3 linked regions of the Homo sapiens genome follow. The protein of the gene in region 2 purifies or fractionates together with the protein of the main gene of each other region. This does not show direct contact. Each region holds a gene or a part of one and is shown on either strand. Other genes may lie near its edges.

What was found.
Region 1: the proteins of NAPB (region 2) and CEP43 purify together in Homo sapiens (co-immunoprecipitation; one large-scale study listed by IntAct). This does not show direct contact.
Region 3: the proteins of NAPB (region 2) and TMEM230 fractionate together in Homo sapiens (co-fractionation; one large-scale study listed by BioGRID). This does not show direct contact.

Annotation. Positions count from the first base shown.
Region 1 is NC_000006.12:167,002,397-167,006,052, forward strand, and holds part of CEP43 (centrosomal protein 43), read left to right. Parts: intron 1-796; coding exon 797-851; intron 852-1,326; coding exon 1,327-1,415; intron 1,416-1,867; coding exon 1,868-2,005; intron 2,006-3,656. UniProt on the Homo sapiens protein: Required for anchoring microtubules to the centrosomes. Required for ciliation.
Region 2 is NC_000020.11:23,376,364-23,380,019, reverse strand, and holds part of NAPB (beta-soluble NSF attachment protein), read left to right. Parts: intron 1-84; coding exon 85-153; intron 154-524; coding exon 525-575; intron 576-2,533; coding exon 2,534-2,644; 3' UTR 2,645-3,656. UniProt on the Homo sapiens protein: Required for vesicular transport between the endoplasmic reticulum and the Golgi apparatus.
Region 3 is NC_000020.11:5,102,941-5,106,596, reverse strand, and holds part of TMEM230 (transmembrane protein 230), read left to right. Parts: intron 1-286; coding exon 287-409; intron 410-3,656.

The sequences.
Region 1 (3,656 bases), on a different chromosome or scaffold from region 2:
TCCAGTTTTTGAGTATTACAAATAAGGTTTCTGTGAACAGTCACATACAAGTCTTTGCTTGGATCTGTGATTTCTCTTGAGAAAATATGTAGAGGTGAAGTGACTAGGTCACATGCTAGGAATATTTGTGACTTTTAAGAAACACTACCAAATTGCTGTCCAAACTCGTTATGCCATTTTGCATTCCCATCAGCAGTGTATGAGGCTGCCACTGTAGCAGCAATTAATGTGGTCTTAAGGAAGCTTACCATGTGCTACCTACTGTAGCCTCTTCTCAGCAACAATCACAGGCTTGATGGTCTAGAAGTATTTTTTCCATACTTATTCAAATAAATGTATAATTACAAAAATAAGTTGGCCTATGGGCCGCATAAGATCATCTCACATTTCATGGATAAACTGGGAATTACAAGTGTATAATTAAATTCCTGTTCATAGTAAGTATGCTATAAATGGTAGATACCTGAGATGACAAAACTTTTATCAAACTTCATGTATTTGAAATAATAAACAGTTGTTGACATTTAATTGTATTTCACACAGGTATTTGAAAATATCTAGCTTCAAAAGCAGTTTATAAAACATTTAAAAATTAAAAATACAAATCTTCATATATGGTTTTGTTATATTAACTTTGAGAAATTACTAAATAGCACAAAGTAAGTCCTGTAGTAATTAACAGTTGTAGAATGGATTTTGTAAAACCATAATTTTATCAATGAAAACGTTAAACTTTATATTTTGTAGTTGTTTTTAGGGTAAACACATGACACTTAAATTTTTTTTTTTTTAACAGAACAAAACTCCTTTAGTTAATGAGAGCCTGAAAAAGTTTTTAAATACCAAAGACGGTAAGATGTTCAGTTTGTTCTTGTTTATCTATCTCTGAATTTTTGAATCTTGATACCATTTGGGAGAAATCAGGAATTTCAGGGCTTTTTTTTTGTCTTCAATTGTTATAGGTCCTCATTTTAAAATAATATTTTATTGTACAACAATCGTGTTGCTATTACATATTTTTGGATTTGGGATGTTGTTGCTTAAAGCCAGTTTTACTACAAAAAGCCAATATTAACCATTAAAAAGCGAAACACTGAAATCTATGAGATGATTGTCTTACAGTTAGTTACAGACTGATGATCCCAGTGAAAAAATCAGGAGATTGAGATTTTCATTACTTAATCATATTATTCAAAGAGGAAATTTGTAACTTAAAAAATTTAGAAACCTTTCTTCCATTAATTTAGTGTATCTATTTCATAATGTTAATTTAAAAAATTCAGTTTTTGAAGATTTGCTTACTTACCTTTTTCTTGATCTTTATAGGTCGTTTAGTGGCTAGTCTTGTTGCAGAATTTCTTCAGTTTTTTAACCTTGACTTTACTTTGGCTGTTTTTCAACCTGAAACTAGCACAGTAAGAATAATGATTTTTACATCTATCTTTTGAAACCTTTGATACAAATGAGTTAATATTAAGCTGAAAGTTAATAGAATTTGACAACTGATAGTTTTTTACATTTAGATTATTTTTGGTAGTTGATTATCTGTTTTTCTTAAAAGCCATATGAGCTTTCAGATAGCTGGCACCAGTGTTGCTGCTTTGTGTTACTTGAAAGCTTGCTAATAAAAGTGTTACTATAGAGTTAATTTTGATACGATGTTAGAGTGCACCTGTTAATGGAAACGTTGAAGGTAGAGGCTCTGTAAAAGAAATAGGCATAATTTTTTAAAATAGACATTTCATTCATTAGTAAGACAGTCTCTTTGAGTTTAAAGATGTCTTTAAACTCTGAAAATATCTTCTTTACTCCTTGAGAATAACTTCTGCTATTTTTTTGTGCACTTGTATTTTAACTTCTTTTCTAGCTGCAAGGTCTCGAAGGTCGAGAGAATTTAGCCCGAGATTTAGGTATAATTGAAGCAGAAGGTACTGTGGGTGGACCCTTATTATTAGAAGTGATCAGGCGCTGTCAACAGAAAGAAAAAGGGCCAACCACTGGGGAAGTAAGTAGAATTCTGTGTTATCTTTTTCTATTTTAATTATTGGCTGCTTAGTTTAGCCATGCAGATTAGTGCATATATAGTAAATTAAGGTTTTCATACTAGAAGATATTCCTTAAAAACAAAATGAGATGCATTCAGATTGTATCAATGCAAATTTTAATGAAAATTAGGAATGTGCTGACTGTGATTCTGTGGCATATCTGTTCTGGTTTTTGATCCTCAAGAGTGTTGGGTCATGAGCTAAACTGTCTGGAACAAATCCCAACTCCTCGTTGCCTCACTTGATCCTCCATTCATTCCATACTGTGTATGAAGTGGGCTCTACCAGGCCCTACCTTGGTGTTCTGAGGCTTCTCTGCATAAGCCAACAGAAGCACTCAACTTGCTATTATTTTTATTAAAACATCTTATTTAAATATAAAAGGGCTGATTTATAGGATAGTTAATAAATTTTTGGACTTAAAGGCCTCTTTAGGCTTAAAACTAAGCTGTTGATTTTGCTTTACGCTGTTTAGAAACAGTTCAAACTTACACTTTTTTGATCAGTAGTACTTTTCATACTCTTAACCTTTTTTTAGAAATTGTGCTAATGAGATTAATGATATAATTTTATTTTCATACATTAATTTTACATGAAGATACTCTGTTTTATAGATACAGGTAACATCTGTAACTGTTCCAGATATTTGATTAAATGTGAGCTTTTAGTCAGAAATTTATAGGTAAGAATGTGGAGGGCTGTATAGGTTTCCAGTTATTTTCTTTGGTGAGTCTCAGAGGATGTTTTCTATTAGAATTTTTGAAAATTGATAAAGCTTGCCTGAGTACTAATTATGTGTAAGGCATGGTAAATAGACTTTGTGGGTACTATAAGATAAAATATAAGAAACTTCTGTGTCTCTGAATAGCGCAGAGCTATTTAAGATAAAATGTGCTCAAATAAGGAAATTAACATTTAAATAACAGTTTAAGATTATGGAGGAATTGTCATTTAACACATTATTTCCAACCATATTATGAATAGTTTAGAGGAGGAAGCGATTGTCACATGCCAAAATTTTATTGAAGTCAATTTTAAAGTGAGAGTAGGATGTCAGTTGTGGGGCGAGGATTGGGAAGGGCTTTCCGAGAAGTTGGAACGGTGCCAGCCAAGCGTGGGAGCAGGAGAGCATAGCCAGATCCCAGGCTGGCTGGGAGTGAGGCGGCTCACCCAGAGCGCAGGTTGTCACTTCAGCTTGTGCATATAATTTCATTCCTTCATTTATCAATATCCAGCAAGCTTTTATTGTGCGCTTATTTGATAGATACTGTGCTGGGTACTGGGCAATCAAAAACAAACTAAAGAACCCAGTCTCCTGGGGCCAGCAGTCTGTAGGTCATGATGACCTCTCTTTATTGGCTTTCCCCTCTCGGCTTCTGTGGCCCTGAAGAACTCTCTTCTCTTTCTAACTGCCCTTTCATTTTCTTTTCTGTTTAGTAGTTGTGCTTTGGCTCACCTCATTGCAGTGGTGTTTATGCATATTTTTCTGTCTAGATTGATCTTTCTTCCTTAACATACCACTAGCATGGACTCTGGAACCAGGTTACTTGGGTGAAACCCCAGCTCTGCTACATTCTAGCTCTGTGAGCCTGCAGTCACTCAGCCTCCGTG
Region 2 (3,656 bases):
TAGATCTTATTTGAAGCTGATAGAATGTTGAAAGCTTTGTTTGTTTAGTAAGTCTGAAATTGATGAGTGGTTTTTCTCTCTCAGCTTGCTCTTGAGAAATATGAGGAAATGTTTCCAGCATTTACTGATTCAAGAGAATGTAAATTATTGAAAGTAAGTAATATTAGAACTTTGAAGAAAAATGCTTTTGTTCTGTTAGGTGACAACACCTAAGTGGGATTGGGTATGAAGTGAAGTTTTAATCTATAAAGTCTGCTAACTGAGGGGCCCTGGTACTTTCCTGCTTTCGTATTATAGGTGTTCAAATGCAATTAAGGTCAGAAACATGTAGTTGTGTTCTGAAATAGGCACCTGAGAAATGTTACTACAGAAGCTAGATCCCTAACTTGGCTCTTGACTTGTATATGAGTATTTCCTCAGTTTTGTGCAATATTTGGCAACATTGGTATTATACTTAAAGTATATATTTAGAAATGGGACTTCATCTTACAGAACTGTTTTTTAAAATATTTTTATGCTACCAGAAACTCCTAGAAGCTCATGAAGAACAGAACAGTGAAGCTTACACTGAAGCAGTAAGTTATGCTTTTGGGACATGGTACATTATTTGAAGATTTAAGTTAAAGAAACTTCTTTTCCTTTTCATTATGTGAATTCTAAACATTTATTTGAACATGACTCCAGCATACCTTAAGTTGTATTTTCCAAACGTCACCTTTTATATATCACACAAATTAAACAGTTCCATTAGCCATGCTGAGATTCGACTTACACTCAAAACTAATTTAGCTGTGAGACTAGTTCAGGAGCAAATATTCCATTTATATTCTTATAATTTGCTGTTTTAATTTTTTCTTTTGAAAATAATCTGACCCATAAATAAGTATAAAGTAAAATTAGTTAAGGCCAGGCACGGCGTCTCACACCTGTAATCCTGGCACTTTCGGAGGCCGAGGCAGGCAGATCATGAGTCAGGAAATTGAGACCATCCTCGCCAACATGGTGAAACCCCGTCTCTACTAAAAATATAAAAATTAGCCAGGCATGCTGGCACACGCCTGTAGTCCCAGCTACTCGGGAGGCTGAGGCAGGAGAATCGCTTGAACCCGGGAGGCAGAGGTTGCAGTGAGCTGAGATTGCACCACTGCACTCCAGCCTGGTGACAGAGCGAGACTCTGTCTCAAAAAAAAAAAGAAAAAAAAAATTAAATATAATTTAAAATATAAAAACTAAGTAGTGAGAATTTGCTGTATTTGTGGCATGAAATAAATGGAAGGTGGCCAGGCACGGTGGCTCACACCTATAATCCTAGCACTTTGGGAGGCCAAGGCGGGTGGATCACCTGAGATCAGGAGTTTGAGACCAGCTTGGCCAACATGGCAAAACACCATCTTTACTAAAAATACAAAAATTAGCCAGGCATGGTGGAGTGTGCCTGTAATACCAGCTACTCGGGAGGCTGAGGCAGGAGAATCTCTTGAACCCAGGAGGTGGAGGTTGCAGTGAGCCAAGATCACGCCATTGCATTCCAGCCTGGGCAACAAGAGTGAAACTCCATCTCAAAAATAAATAAATAAATAATAAATATATATATATATTAAAAATATGAGGGTTTTTTTCTTTATACTTTTTGTTTTTCCATCTTTTGCCATCTCATGTTTAGAATCAAGCAAAAAAAAATGTTTTTATATATTTTGAAACAGATCCTCACTCTGTCACTCAGGCTGGAGTGCTGTGGTGTGATCACGGCTCACTGCACCCTCAACCTCCTGGGTTCAGGTGATCCTCCCACCTGAGACTCCTAAGTACCTGGGACTACAGGTGCACACCACCACCCCCAGCTAATTTTTTTTTTTTTTTTTGCATTTTTTGTTGAGACAAGGTTTCACCATGTTGCCCAGGCTGGTCTCTTAACTCCTGGGCTTAAGCTATCCACCTGCCTTGGCCTCCCAGACTTCAAGGATTACAGGCATGAGCCACTACATCCAGCCTCAAGCAAATTTCTCAGTAGCCTCCTGTAACATGTTCATCACAGCTCAGGAGTGATAGAGGAAAGGAATGTTTTCCTGTCTGACTTTTGCCTACCACATCATTTTCATCCTATTGTAATTTTATTTTTGGGTAATGCATTGAAATGTGTTAATTCCGCTTCCATACATATTCTAACTCTGTAATTAATGTTTTCCCATGTTCAGTGAGTATTAATTTTCCATATTCCTTTCAAATTTTTATACAATATCCAGTTACTTTTGCCACAATAATTATGACTGTTAATGAATTTTTTTCTTACACGTTTGAAAACAGAGAAATGTCAAGCCCAGGAACTTGTCACTAGTATCAAAATAGTAACAGGATAATGAAAAAATAAACAATTTTTTAATGAAGAAAGTTATAAACTGGAATGATTAATTTCAAATGATGAAGAAAGTTAGTAGATTATGGCTGTAAAGGTATAAACAGCTTGGGGTACTATTATTTTGTGTTTTTAATGTATTTACATGGGGTAATTCCTGTTCCTCTTTCCTTATACTAGGTGAAGGAATTTGACTCAATATCTCGCTTGGATCAGTGGCTGACCACCATGTTGCTTCGCATCAAAAAGTCCATCCAAGGGGATGGAGAAGGAGATGGAGACCTAAAATGAAATGTTTTTGTCTTTGTGGCATGCAGCTAACTCCTCTTTAGTTTTGTCTTAGGGTCAAGTGATCTTTATGGGATGCCTATTTAATGGCTTAATTTTGTTGCATATGAGCCAGACGGCCTGTGTATTGTTTAAGCTCGCCAAGTCTGTGTTGCTGTGAAATGAATGAAGGAGAGGCTCCTGTTCATCTTGTGGTAATGATGGGTTGTTTCATGCTTATCAGAACCCCCAGCGTTTTCTGAGAAGTACTTCAGAATCTCATTCCTCATATTTCATTGGTATTTGTGGAGCCTATGTTTAATGTTGCCACGTGTTTTTATGTCCTTTTTGTTGGACTTGAGTACTCAGCCCAGTTGTTCTCATAGATGCTTTGCATTTTCTCTGTGCTTTGGCATCTGAATATGTTCTTTAAATGTGTGTTTAGTTTAGGACAGTTACTAGGAATGAGTTTATAACTTCATTAGAAATCATTTCTATTTTTGTTATCCTGTGATTATTTTGATGGTGCTAGTGACTAGTTTCTTTGCTTTTTGTGTTGTTCCGTATGCTAACATGTGCATGGCAAAAATTTAGAATAGCCAGGGTCTGTAGGCATCACATTGTGAGGAAGGGAGCTTTCTGGAAGTACTTGCTTCATGTATGGATGAGTGTCAAAGTGAATTTGATTTGTACTTAGACACACGCGTTTACACACACACACATATCACAAGATCTGTTAGAAATGGAATTTTTCTCTTTTTCTGGAGATAGTTTTCACTTTTAGTTGGAGTGGAAATCCCTTTATATTTACATTGAAGTATTTTAATTGGCATAGCCTGCTCATTATTTTCATGTTTATACACTTTCCCACGTTGAGGTGGTGTGTTCTGTGCTGTGACTATAGAAATCTTGGTCAGGGCTGGATAGATTATCTAAGTCAAGCTTGAGAATGAATGTATGTAATTTTCCTGTTTATTGTACATGATGGGTTAGGTGGGGTGAATGTGGTACAGGAATGTCCTGTATGCCCAAGTGG
Region 3 (3,656 bases), about 18 Mb from region 2:
TGTCTCTACTAAAAATACCAAAAAAATTAGCTGGGTGTAGTGGCGGGCACCTGTAACCCCAGCTGCTCAGGAGGCTGAGACAGGAGAATCACTTGAATCCAGGAGGCAGAGGTTGCAGTGAGCCAAGATCACGCCATTGCTCTCTAGCCTGGGCAACAAGAACGAAACTCCATCTCAAAACAAACAAACAAAAACATAAAAATTACAAATAATTAATTAAATGTTTGAACCCAGGTATTTGCATTAATGTTCTTCGTTGTCTTTTTCATCTCTATTTCTCTTCCAGTTTAAGAAAACCCCTCCTAAGATCCCTTATAAGGCCATCGCACTTGCCACTGTGCTGTTTTTGATTGGCGCCTTTCTCATTATTATAGGCTCCCTCCTGCTGTCAGGCTACATCAGCAAAGGGGTAAGCTGACGGGCATGTGGGAATAAGTTGTGAGATTTTTAAAATGTTAGCCAAGGCTCTAGTGTGCGTGTGTGTGTGTGTGTGTGTGTGTGTGTGTGTGTGTGTGTGTTTGTCCGTCCCAGTGGTCTGTTTTTTTTGAGACAGGGTCTTGCTCTGTCATCCAAGCTAGAGTGCAGTGGCACAACCTTTACCTCCCTGGGCTCAAGCGATCCTCTCACCTCAGCCTCCCGAGTAGCTGGGACTACACGTGTGTGCCACCACACCCAGCTAATTTTATTTTTTATTTACTTATTTTTGTTTGTTTTATTTTGTGTAGAGACAGGGTTTCACTATGTTGCCCAGGCTGATCTCTAACTCCTGAGGTCAAGCAGTCTGCCTGCCTCAGCCTTCCAAAGTGCTGGGATTGCAGGTGTGAACCATTGCCCCTGGCCAATTTTTTTTCCAATTTTTATGGGTACATAGTAGGTGTATATACTTAGGGGATACATGAGGTATTTTGATACAGCCATGCATTCATAATAATCACATCAGGCTAAATGGGGTATCCATCCCCTCAAGCATTCATCATTTGTATTACATTCCAATTATACTTTTATTTATTTATTTATTTTGAGACAGAGTCAGGCTGGAGTGCAGTGGCATAATATCGGCTAACTGCAACCTCCGCCTCCCAGGTTCATGCTATTCTTGTGCCTCAGCCTCCCGAGTAGCTGGAATTACAGACGTGCGCCACCGCACCCGGCTAATGTTGGTATTTTTAGTAGAGATGGGGTTTCGCCATGTTGCCCAGGCTGGCCTCCCAAAGTGTTGGGATTACAGGCATGAACCACTGTGCCTGGCCTATTTTTAGTTATATATATACATATACACATACATACATACATACATATATATATATTTTGGAGACAGAGTCTTGTTCTGTCACCCAGGCTGGAGTGCAGTGGCAGGATCTCAGCTCACTGCAAACTCCGGCTCGTGGGTTCAAGTGATTCTCCTGCCTCAGCCTCCTGAGTTAGCTGGGACTATGGTGGCAAGCCAGCACACTTGGCTTATTTTTGTATTTTTAGTAGAGATGGGTTTTTGCCATGTTGGCCAGGCTGGTCATGAACTCCTGACCTCAAGCGGCCTGCCCGCGTGGGCCTCCTAAAGTGCTGGGATTACAGGCGTGAGCTACCACGTCCAGCCTTAGTTATTATATTTTTAAATGTACAATAAATTATTCTCTAGTCACTTTGTGCTATCAAATACTAGAGCTTATTCATTCTATGTAACTATATTTTGTACCCGTTAACCTTCCCCATTCCCCCCTACCTTTCCCAGCCTTTGGTAACCATCATTCTACAATATCCATGAGTTCAATTGTTTTAATTTTTAGTTCCCGCAAATGAGTGAGAACATGGAAAGTGTGTCTTTCTGTGCCTGGCTTAATTTCACTTAACATAACGTTCTCCAGTTTCATCCATGTTGTTGCAAGTGACAGGATCTCATTCTTTTTAGTGGCTGAATAGTACTCCATTGCATATATGTACCATATTTTCTTTATTCACTTGTCTGTTGAAGAACACTTTGGTTGCTTCCAGATCTTGGCTGTTGTGAATAGTGCTGTCATAAATATGGAAGTGCAGATACCTCTTTGATAAACTGATTTCCTTTCTTTTGGGTATATACCTAGCTGTGATTGCTGGATCATATGGTAGTTCTATTTCATACTGTTCTCCATAGTGGCTATACTAATTTACATTCCCATCAACATTGTACGAGGGTTCCCTTTTCTCCACGTCCTCGCTAGCATTCGTTATTGCCGTTTTTTTTGGATAAAAGCCATTTTGGCTGGGTGCAGTGGCTCACGCCTGTAGTCCCAGCACTTTTGGAGGCCGAGGCAGGAGGATCACTTGAGCCCAGGAGTTCGAGACCAGCCTGCGCAACATAGCGAGACCTTGTGTCTATATTTTTTAAAAAGCCATTTTAACTAGGATGAGATGATATCTCATTGTAGTCTTGATTTGCATTTCTTTGATCAATGATGTTAAGCACCTTTTCATATACCTATTTGCCATTTGTATGTCTTCTTTTGAGAAATGCCCATTTTTGATTGGATTATTAGATTTTTTTTCCTACAGAGTTTGAGCTCCTTATATATTCTGGTTATTAATTCCTTGTCAGATGGATACTTTGCATATATTTTTTCCCATTCTGTGGGTTGTCTCTTCCTTTGCTGTACAGAAGCTTTTTAACCGGATGTGATCTCATTTATCTGTTTTTGTTTTGGTTGCTTGTGCTTTTGGGGGCATTACTCAAGAAATCTTTGCCCAGTCCAGCATCCTGGAGAGTTTCCCCCATGTTTTCTTATAGTAGTTTCATAGTTTTAGGTCTTACATTTAAGTGTTTAATCCATTCTCATTTGATTTTTGTATATGTCAAGAGATTTGAGGGGTCTAGTTTCATTCTTCAGCATATGGATATCCAGTTTTCCTAATACCATTTATTGAAAAGACTGGTTCTTTCCCCAGTGTATGTTTTTTTGTTTTTTGGTTTTTTTGTTTGTTTTTTTTTTTTTGAGACAGAATCTCACTGTGTCATCCAGGCTGGAGTGCAGTGGCACCATCTCGGCTCACTGCAACCTCAGCCTCCCAAATAACTGGGACCACAGGCATGTGCCACCACACTTGGTTAATTTTTTTTTCATTTTTTGTATAGATGAGGTTTTGCCGTGTTGCCCAGGCTGATCTCGAACTCCTAGACTCAAGCAGTCCAGGAGTACAGTGGTGTGATCACAGCTCTCTGCAACCTCAATCTTCAGGGCTCAGTCGATCCTCCCACCTCAGCTTCCCAAGTAGCTGGAGTTACAGGTGTGAGTCACCATACCTAGCTAATTTTTTTGTTTGTTTGGTAGAGATGAGATCTCATTATGTTGCCCAGGCTGGTCTTAAACTCCTAGGCTCAAGCAATCCTCCTGCCTCAGCCTCCCAAAGTGCTGGAATTACAGGCTTTAGCCACTGCACCCCTCTGACTATGTTTCCCGTTGTGTGTTAATTATGGTCAGTGTGAGGCCCACCCTAGCCTCCCAAAGTACTGGGATTACAGGCGTGAGCCACCACACCCGGTGGATGTAGAATTTTATCAAATGCTTTTCTAGCATCGATTGAAATAATCATATGGTTTTTGTCCTTCATTCTGCTGATACGATTTTATCACATTGATTGGTTTGTATAAGTTGAACCATCCTTGCCTCTCTGGGATAAATCCC